Regions from separate parts of the Homo sapiens genome. Here region 2 is linked to region 1. The links come from fine-mapping of genetic effects on gene expression. A gene starts in region 1. The other region holds a variant in brackets. All regions are shown on one strand. Distances are from middle to middle.

Evidence for each region. PIP is the estimated chance that this variant, and not a neighbour inherited with it, causes the effect. A credible set is the group of variants that fine-mapping cannot tell apart.
Region 2: its variant is the best candidate, but not a certain one, in a credible set for the expression of ACADSB in skeletal muscle (GTEx, PIP 0.56).

Annotation. Positions count from the first base shown.
Region 1 is chr10:123,005,773-123,011,153 of GRCh38, reverse strand. ACADSB (acyl-CoA dehydrogenase short/branched chain) reads right to left here and starts at 2,148. Exons shown (of 11, transcript NM_001609.4): 1 at 2,083-2,148. The coding sequence starts at 2,124. IKZF5 (IKAROS family zinc finger 5) reads left to right here and starts at 2,359. Exons shown (of 5, transcript NM_001372123.1): 1 at 2,359-2,460; 2 at 3,978-4,128. RefSeq lists enhancers at 2,243-2,572, 2,853-3,082.
Region 2 is chr10:123,034,535-123,039,915 of GRCh38, reverse strand. ACADSB (acyl-CoA dehydrogenase short/branched chain) reads right to left here. Exons shown (of 11, transcript NM_001609.4): 3 at 2,069-2,169. Among named protein-coding and RNA genes, the nearest start is that of ACADSB, 28 kb to the right of the region's middle. The variant C/T (reference allele first, on the strand shown) is at 2,442.

The DNA of each region.
Region 1 (5,381 bases):
CATTTCTCCCCACTCCATGCCACTTGTGTCCACAGCCATCTACCTACACTGTGGCATGAGGAAACTCCAAAGCTCTTGACCTTCAATGGCTCCTAACAATCCAAAAGGATCAACCCCCAATTCCCTAAAGTGGCCTCAGTCCCCTTTTGTTGCAGTTTTCTGACCACTCCTTTCCCCTCCTAAACTCTAACCCAGCTTCCAAAGAGCCTATCACTTCCCCAATGGTCCTAGTCATTTCTATCTTCTGAATCTGCACGCAGACTGTAGCCCCTTAGGATTTGTTCCACACCTACATGACATGGGGTTAGTTGCACATAGTTCTAACCTTTCCTCTAAAAGATAAACTTCTTGGAGGTAGAGTATTTTATTCATTATTACATCTGGCATAGCACACAATGCTTCGTGCATGGCAGTAAGAGCTGATATTTACCGAGAGCTGACTACATTCCGAGCACTATTCTAAGTGCCTTACATGAACATATGAGCTCATTTAATTTTCACAACAATTTTGGAATACGCACAATTATTCTCTCCATTTACAGACCAGGAAACTGAGACCCAAAGCATAACCTGTCCAAGGTTATACCACTAGGAAGTGAGAGGGCCTGGGTTCAGATCCAAGCAGCCTAGCTACAGAACCTACGTTCTTAACCACTATGCTACAGTCGATGTTCAATCAATTTAGCTAATTTATGTAAAAGAGCTTCAAAAACTATAAAGGACTATAAGCCACAATAAACCAAAAGTTCAAACAAAATAGGTTTTTGATATCTCTAAGGACGGGGAGACAGTAGTATATGAAGGTTAAGTTTAGAATCAGACCAGAGTTCGAATACCACCAGCTCTATCCCTTTCTATCTGTGGGCAAGCTATTATTCTTTTTCAGCATCTGCAAGATTAAACTACTTGTTAAGATGGTTGTGAGAATTGAGATGACTCAGGTAGAACGAGAACGTGCCTACCACAGAGTATGCGGTCAATAAATTTTGGCTCTAAAACAGAGTCAAATTGTAAAACCAAAGAAATTTTCTTTGCTAAGTTATTAACCAACAATTATAAACAGTATTAAACAATAATCACTTACTGTTTTTTATTGCACTTCAGGCCTGTAAAACAGTCAAATAACATTAATTATCTCTAATAAGAAAAAGGGTCAGAGTTCTGCCTCTGGGCATAAGACTGAAGCAGCAGTTGGAAAGCCTAACTCATTAAAGCAAATGCAAAGGAAACATTAAAAGCACACGTAAGCAGTGGGAAAATTCCCAGTGAAGTGTACTGACAAATACAAGTGTATCCAAATGTGTATGTTCTGAAAAGCATGCTATATAATAGGTCCAAGGGGTGAAGAGCATAGGATGTTAACACAGGGGCTGTTAACAGTTTGTGTGGGTGCACAGATAAGAATTAAGCACAACAAGAGGCTGGTTTCAGCTTAAGTTCATGGAAGAGGGACCGGCACCGGCTCCGGCTCCCCTGGGCGGCGGTGAGTCTATCCACGGAAGATACCCAGGCTCCAGACATGAGATAAGGGGCAGAGGGAACTCTGTCCCTGGCCGGGAAGCCCGAACAACTCCGAAGTCCCTTACTACCTTTGAGCGGGGCCGCGGAAGGAAGGACAGGGAGACACCTGCTCAGAATGAGACTGGGCCTATATTTTAACTATCTTTTTTGGGGGAGGGGGTGTGAAATGTAATCACTCGGGAAAGGTGCGTTAGGGCATCAGGGAGGTGACATCTGTGCAAAATGCATCCAGAGATCCAGAGATCCAGACTCGGTGGCTCTCAGGACGCAACGGCCTGCAAAGGACATCTTGCGGACGCGACCCTCCGACTCCACTCAAGGTACTTGCTCCGCCAAAGCAGCTTCTAGACAGCCCCGACCCCCTTGCCACCAGCTGCCTCCACCAGAGGCCTGAAGGGGGTCGGGGTCATAGACTGCCCGCGGGTAAAGAGTCTGGGGACCCAGGACGTGGAGCGGGGCTCAGGCCGGCGCCCCGAGGCCCGTTAGAAGGCTCTGCCAGCTGCGATTCCAGGGGCCAAGGTCGCCCTGGGCCCCCAGGACGCCAGCCTCGAACGCACTCACCAGCCTGCTGCCGCGCAGCAACCGCACTGCCAGGCCCTCCATCCTCGCCGCAGGCCTCTCCGCTCTGCGCCTCTGGGTCTCTAGCCAGCCCCTGGGAGTTACCCGAGCAAGGCCCCGCCCACTCAGTACCCGCCCCGCACACACCCCCCCTTAATCCCTGCCCCCTGCTGCCTACGGAACCCCAAGAGAGACAAACAGGCCCCTCCTCGCTTTCGCCCTCCATCCTGCTCACGCGAGACTTGAGCAAGGCAGGGGGGCGGGAAGGGAGTCGGAGACACAACAAAGATGGCGGCGGCGACTGTGACGGTGACGAAGACGGCGGCGGCGGCGACGGCATTTAACAAGGCGGTGTGGTTTACTCCATGCAGTTGTCAGGAGGTAAGTAGCAGGCTGCCGGCTCGGACGGCGGCGACGCGGCAGGACAGGGCGGATAAGAAGGAGCGGCCGGAGACTGGAGCTGGGTTCGTGGCGGGCCGGCTGATCCGGACGGAGACTCAGTTCAGTGGAGGGTCGGGCGTGGTCGGTAGGCGGGCAGGTGATGGCCCGGGACCTCTTTAGCCGGAGGGCAGTGGACTGCGGCGCCTATGGCCGCGAGAACCCCGAGGGAGCGGGGTCTCCTGCTGTCATTGCCTTCGAGCAGGAGCTCGGAGGCTCCGGGGCGGGGACTGTTGCTTGGCTCTGACAGGTGGTTCTGCGGGAGGCGTCCCGAGGTTTGCGTCTTCACGGGGTCCCAGGGGCTGGGAGTCAGCCGGGCGCGGGTCTCCTAGGTGTTTCGAATCCTGGCGAGGATGTCGCTCCGAATCTTGGTGAGGCTGCTGCCCCGACGCCGGTCCCAGGCTGATTGTTGGGAGAAGGACGTTTAAAGCCTTCGTATTTTATCTAATGATCCTGCCCGGATCCGTCTCTACTGCATGGGCACCCTTATTTTAGGAACATGTGAGATTTGAGAAAGACATTGTAGCAAATAACTATTCAGGTTCATTCGGGGTTTAGATCTTTGGATAAACTGTGTGGAGCGCGAGTAGCCAAGCCTAGCATGCTCGATGACTGGATCTGAAGCTAAACAAGTTCTAGCAAACACTAACCACGTGGCCTGCTTAGAGTCCCCTTGATGTGCTGGTCAGAACCCGAAAGACGTGTGACAAGCGGAAGAAGACATAAAGGCGTCTTAAATTGTGTGATCTGAGGAAATTCAGTTTTGAAAGAACAGAATGTATTTAAAACAACTTTTTTTTAAACGTAGGAACTAACAATTTTAAAAATTCAATTTAATTTTGATTTATGTCGTGTTGTCACAACAGCTAAAGGTTATTATTATTGATGAGAGTTCGTTACAGTGAATTGAAATGTCTGGTGTTATTTTCCCCTAGCGGTCCAGGATGTTTCCCAGAAAACCGTAGCTGTTTTGTGTTATGATAGGATAAGAAGGATGGGATTCAGATGTGCCCTTATCGGGTGTGCATGTTTTTTTTGTTTTTGTATTTAAAGCCCTTTCCCATTTCCCTACTTAGGACTATGCGTTGTTTTTATGCAACTACAGCTGTTCAGCAGTACTAAGCTTGACCGTTTTGGAAGTGTGCTGTGACTAAATGAAGTTAATCTTAATTTCTTTAAACTGAAGTTTAACTTAAATTTAGACATTAAAAATCTTGCCAAAAACTAATCCACCAGTGAGAAAACGGTAGTCACACCAGTTATTCTTTGGTGATCCTATGGAGCTTTTGCTGAAGTGAAGCTACTGCTTTGTTCTTTGATTAATCTGTCAGTTCGTTTTCTTTTCAGCTAATGTAATGATAAGATTGGCATAAGTTACTAGCTCATTCAACCTGTAGATGCTAATTAAGTTTTTATCTTAAAGGTTTTGATTTGTGGTGTGCTGTTTGTTTTTTATGCAGACCTCTGTATGGCTTTTCAATTTTAGTTGAAATTCTCTCTCCATGGCCTTTTGGAGTCCCTTGCTGTATCTCCGAAGTAAATTTCAATTACTCTACATTTCATCAATGTTGGAGTGGCAAGAAAAAGGAGGAACAGATTTGGGGTGAAAAGGTTAGATTGTATAATTTCTCTTCTGGATTTCTTTCAACATGGTTTTACTTATGTTTTATTTTTATGTTTTGATTTCTGATTTCTCAGAGCCTCATAATTTCTTTTTTTGCCTTCAAGAGTTTTTGACAGTTCTGAAATCAGGAATTGTGTTCCAATTATTTTGGAAGGCCCATGTTACTCCATAGAAACCAATCCTTATTTGTCAACGTTGTCTGTTTATATGTGTTCTATAGCAGAGTAAATCTCAGTGACCATAATTATTAGGCTATGGAGGGTAAACACATCTATTGAACTGTAATCACTTTATGTGTATAGGCCTGCCTTACCCATAAATTATTATGTAAGTAAATTAGTTGCTAATATTGTATTCTTCCTTATGGTTACCTATGAGAAGTAAGACTTCTCATGAATGCTAGGTGAACGAAACATATCCTGCTGTTCCCTAATCATGTTCTCAAAATTCTCCCACAGTTTATAAAAAAGATAGAAGGAAGAAGGAAGATAGGTTAGAGAGCTTCTTCTCTGGTTGTTTCATAGTTGTGAATGCCTTCTAATTTGCATTTCAGTGCCTGTGTTTTAAATTATTAGCTACTGGTTAAGAGGCTGGGGGGGGTGCACATATATACACACATGTAATTGTGTGTGTGTGCTTGTATATATGCTTGCATTGATCAACAGCTTCCCATTTATGAGACTGAAGAAGAAAGATCAGACGACTTCATACAAAATAAATCCTTTATCAGAAACCAAGGAAGATCGGAAATTAGCCTAAATTACCTACTTGAGGTAGAGGTTTTCCTGTTCTTTGGGATATCAAAGCTTAATTCTCTTATACCTCTTTTCCCCCTACCGGCTTGCATAGCCTCTGGTTGTTTTCTGAAAGCATTGATTTTGAGCCTTGAATAATAAATTGGGGGACGCTACTGGCATGACAATACTTTAGGTATACCCTAGCCAGTTTCTATATAGATATCCACCTACACCCCATGGAATTCCATACTATATTCAACTTAACTTTAATCAGAATAATCACAGGAAGGATTTGGGAATTTTGCTATATCATAAGGAACAATCATCATAAAGTATGGGGATATTGTTCTCTTTGGTTGATATGATTAGATATCTTAGTTCAGGTTGCTGTAACGAATTACCATAGACTGAGTGGTTTAAACAAACATTTATTTCTCACAGTTCTGGAGGCTGGGAAATCTTAATATGAAGGTGCCAGCAGATCAGGTATCTGGGGAGGGCTT
Region 2 (5,381 bases), 29 kb before region 1:
GGATTCAAAAAATAATGAGAGGTAAAATGCTTTAAAGGGTAGCTTAATGGAATGAGAAAATATCTTATATACTTAGATGACCTTTCTTGCTAAGAACTGTTGTTGCCTGCTTAAAGCAGGTAGGTGGGGTTTTGATTTTTCAACATGCCCTACCCACCTTATGCTGATTTCAATGTAATAAGGAAACAGAAGAAAATAACCTACTCCTCAATGGGATGTCTATAGTTTCATTTGGCAAAGTTTCTTCTAGTCAGGCTCTTTCACCTTGACTTTTTCAGCCAAGTTAATAATTGAATGACCATTCCTTTTACGCCACTTCATAAGTTCAGGATGGTTAGCAGAGAACATGTGGTGGTGTTTGCTAGAGCCACACTAGCCAAAGCACGAGGGCCTGGTAAACACGACCAGTGCCAGCCAAGCCTTTCCAACGACCCAGTTCCATCGTTACTGAAACTCACATAGTACTCTCAATTTCACAAAGAGAATGTGTGCATGTGTAATTCAAAACCCACAGCTGCTAACAGAAGGATAATTCTCTTAGTCTCTCTCTAGACATTCCTGGAGTCACACTATGCTGCAGTCAGGGCTGTGGCTGTTACATTTTGGGCTACAACAGGAAAAGGGAACCAGAAATGCGAGCGACTGAATGGTGAGAAAACCAGAAACGAGGAAGAACGGAAGGATCTGGGTTTGCCTGAGAACTGAGGAGGGCACTCCGGAAACCTCATTACAATGACTCGAACAGATATCAGAGACATTGCTTCTCTAAAAAAGTCACTAATCTCTCCCAACGTGGAAATAGTGTTTTTGCAAGCCATTATGCCAAAAACCCAGGACAATGGGAGTGAGGAGGCAGGTGAGGCTGCATCTGCACAGGAGTGGTTTGTGGAGATGAGTAGCAGGGTGCAGGCAATGCATCACTCTGCAGACAGCCCCGCTGCAGGAACGACCACCGCGGGGGAGATCTCACACTGTGAAACCGTGAGACTGCTCCCAGAAGCCTAGAGGGTCTGCAAGCAATAGAAATAAAACCTGGCTGAGAAATGGACTCACAGAGTCCATCTGTTCTCCACATCGGCCTCCTGTTTGACCACTATGGTTCCACATAAGATTCCAGTTTCCTAAGAGTTTGACTGCTAAAAGAAAGATGGAAGAATCACTACTACACACGGTATAAAAAAGCTGGTTGCTTTAAAACAGAAATAAATAAAACTATCTAGCTAAGTGGCAATGGTTATTTTTCAAACCAGATGGCAGACAAGATTTAGGCCAATGGCTCTGAATAGCAGCCACTTGTTCTGGGACATCTTTAGTATTAAAAATTAAAAAAAATATATTTTATACCTCTGCGGAAGTGAGAAATGATGCGTGCAGTGATTTTTAAAATGTTCTTCTAGAAGCCCCTATGCTAATAGCCCCTCCCCCTACTCACAGTGAGAGCGGTTTTACTTGTATCTATTTCATACGTTGTATTTCCATTAAAGAGCTATGTGACTTGAGAAGATGGGAATCTGTTGCCCGGTTTATGTGGAATTCATGTATCACCTCTGCTTCTAAGTTTATCACTTATATAGAGCTTCAGGTAGAATATAAACTATGCTATGAAGTTTCACTATCTAAAGTAGGGTTTCTTCATGGTGGCATTGGGTTGGATAATTCTTTGTTGTGGCAGTTGTCCTGTGCACTACAGGATGTTGAGTGGCATCCCTTGTCTCTATCCCACTAGATGCCAGTAGCACGCCTTAGCTGTGGCAACCAAAGATGTCCCTAGACGTTGCCCAATGTCCCCTGGAGGGCAAAACTGCCCCCATTTGAGAACCGCTGGTCTAAAGATACAAATAAATTACCATCTTACTTCCAAACTTTTCCTTAAAATATACAGTATTTCAAATTAAAAAATGTTAATTCCATTTTTAAGAACTTTTAAGTACATAAATATCAAGTAGGATTTCAACCAAAAAAAGAAAACAGATAATTTTGACTGGGAAATGCAGGGTTCATTATGCTATCATTACAGTCCCTGAATTTAATTATAGAAGCTTGAAAGTGGAAGAATTATGAAATGTACCCCTTGTTGAAATAATCCTTGTATTACTGATTTCTCCATTTTCGAATTTTCATCCATGGTTGAAACCAAAGGTGCAATTTGTTCCTGAGCAAATTTTTTAACTGTAGGAAAAAGAATTACTGATAAGTCTATGTTAAAGTGACAGTCACATTAATAGTTTGCTGACAAAATTTTACATTTTAACTAAGTTAAAATATACACAGGTACCCTTCTTATATTTTTAAAATAGAATTTATAAAGTTTTCTTTTTAACATAGAAAGGTGTAGTTTCCCATATCCCTTTGTAACTCTTGATGACCTCACAAAATAAATGATATGTGTAGATGGTGCAAAAACACAAGCAATAAAGAAAGCACAAAATGAAAAATGAAAG[C/T]CATTTCCACTCTACCCAAAGGTGACTAATTTTAAATTTATTATGTATTCTTTCTGAAAACTTTTCTTTGAAAATCATCTATACTTAACTGTACACATACATGTTCACACAAAGGAATCATGAGATACACACTGGTGTGTGCCTTGCTTCCCCTCAACTATATCTTGATGATCTTTCTATGTCAGCATATCCCATCTAACCTGGTCGTTTTCATAGCTGCTTGGTCATACAGAACAGGGTTTCCCCACCTTGGCACTATTGACATTTTGGGGCAGGTGAGTCTTTGTTGTGGGGCTGTCCTGTGCATTGCAGGATGTTGAGCAGCAGCCCGGCCACGGCCCCACTAGCTGCCAGGAGCGTCCCCTACTTCTAAGTTGTGGCAATCAAAAATGTCTCTAAATGTTGCTAAATGTCCGCTGGGGGCAAACTTGCCCCCACTGAAAACCGCTGTTTCATTTTTTAATGTTTTTAAGACTTAGATGCATTTATAAATCATTTTGATGAAAACACCTTCTTAAGTTTACTACCAATGTAATACCAAGTCGGTAGAGAAGGCAACCGGGTTCAGTGCATGTGGCTTGCTTCAGTATTCCTTCGTTTCTGCACACGCGACTCTCATTATGTAGAATCTCTTCCCTTCCCTTGTCCAGCTGGCCAACTGCACTTTGTCCTTCATGGTACAGCTCAAGCTCCACACTCTCTGGGAAGCCTTTCCTGACTGCTTCCTTAGCCCACTTCTGCCACGCCTAGCAAAGTCTAGGTGTTCTCTGCTTTGTTCCCCAAATACCTCCATGACATTTACCATGTTATTCTGAAACTATTTCCTTTATTCGACTGTCTTTGCCACTAGATTCTGAGTTCCTTAAAAGCAGTGATTTTTTTCTTGCCCATCTTTATTGCTTCTGTGCTTAGACTAGGTGGATACTAAAGAAATAAATAAGACTGAAGACAGAGAATCAAGATACTCTAAGCAAATTCTTTGATTTATGTAAACTAACCACTCACTCTTGTTTTTCCTTAGCTATCCCAAACTCACTTCCCTGAGACCATATCTAAAAGGCGAGGGAGCAAAGGAAAAGAAATTTACTAGCTGGGCGCAGTGGCTCATGCCTGTAATCCCAACACTTTGAGAGGCCGAGGTTGGTGGATCACCTGAGGTCAGGAGTTCGAGACCAGCCTGGCTAACATGGTGAAACCCTATGTCTACTAAAAGTACAAAATTAGCTGGGCGTGGTGGCACACGCCTGTAATCTCAGCTACTTGGGAGGCTGAGGCAGGAGAATTGCTTGAACCCAGGAGGCAGAGGTTGCAGTGAGCCGAGATAGTGCCATTGCATTCCAACATGGGCAAAAAGAGCAAAACTCCCTTTCAAAAAAAAAAGAAAGAAAAGAAATTTACTTATTGTGACAGAGTTCTAAGACAGTGCCAAGATTCCCAGCCGCTGGTGTATACATGTCCTCTCTCAGTTATTCAAACATGAATCTAAGTGCTGCTGTGAAGGGATTTTACAATTAAGCTTCCAAATCAGCTGAACTTAAAACATGGAGATTGGTGGGCCTGACCTAATCAGGTGAGCCCTTAAAAAAGGTGGGGCTCTTTCTGGTGAAACAGGTTTTAAGGATGAGAGAGACTCGATGCTGGGAGGGAGAGTTACTGGTTTTGAAGATGGAGGGAGCCACATGGCAAGGAATACAGAGGCCTCCAGGAGTTGGGGACAACCTCTGGCTGACAGCCAGCTGGGCAACAAGACCTCAGCCCTGCAACAGCAAAGAACTGCGTACTGACACAACCACGGGAGCTTGGAAGGACCCTGAGCTCTGGACGAAAACACAGCCCAACTGACACACTGATGTTGACCTTCTGAGACCCTGCGCCTGGACTTGCTCCAGCTGGACTTCTGGCCTACAGAACTGTGAGCCACTACACCGGTGCTGTTTTAACTTGTTAAGTTTGTAGTGATTCAATACCAAGCAATAGAAAACGAATACACTTAACATCCATATTCTCTAAGAACAACATTCTGATGTTCTGCTATGGATTTTTAAATATATCATAATTTTACACCTATATCTATACCCATAAATAAATGAATGCAAACTGCTTTAAGGTTTAGTGGTATACAACTTCTGCTTCATTTGGGCTCCGTGTTTCAACCACAGGTGTTTCATAGATAAAGGTAAAATTGAAATTCCACGTAAAGTATGAAAACCCACTATCTAGGCTGGGCATGGTGGCTCACGCCTGTAATCCCAGCACTTTGGGAGGCCAAGGAGGGCAGATCATGAGGTCAGGAGATCGAGACCATCCTGACTAACACGGTGAAACCACGTCTGTACTAAAAAACAAAATACAAAAAAACTAGCCAGGCGTGGTGGCACGTGCCTGTAGTCCCAGCTACTCAGGAGGCTGAGGCAGGAGAATTGCTTGAACCCAGGAGGCAAAGGTTGCTGTGAGCCGAGATTGCGCCACTGCACTCCAGCCTGGGTGTCAGAGTGAGACTCCATCTCAAAAAAAAAAAGAAAAAAAAGAAAGAAAGAAAGAAAAAGAAAACCCACTATCTAAAGAAAAGTGGAATATAAATGTACTTCTAACTCTGCAAGGCTATATAAGAAACTGGTAACAAGGTGGCAAGAACTGGGGAACTAGAGAACATGGGTGGGAGAGTCTTCACTTTTAACTACATAGCCTTTTATTCTGTTGTTTTAATATTGGATATGCATTGCTTTTCTTCATCACAAATTTAGATGAACATATCTTTCAATCCTGTCATATGTGACTTCATATTGTAGACCCAATTCATGACCAGAGGAATAATAAGGTGATATTTTTCCAGCTATTCAGGAGGCTGAAGCAGGATAGCTTGAGCCCAGAGGTGGGGCTGCAGTGAGCCATGATTGCACCACTATGCTCCAGAGATCCTGTCTGGGGAGAAAAAGGTGA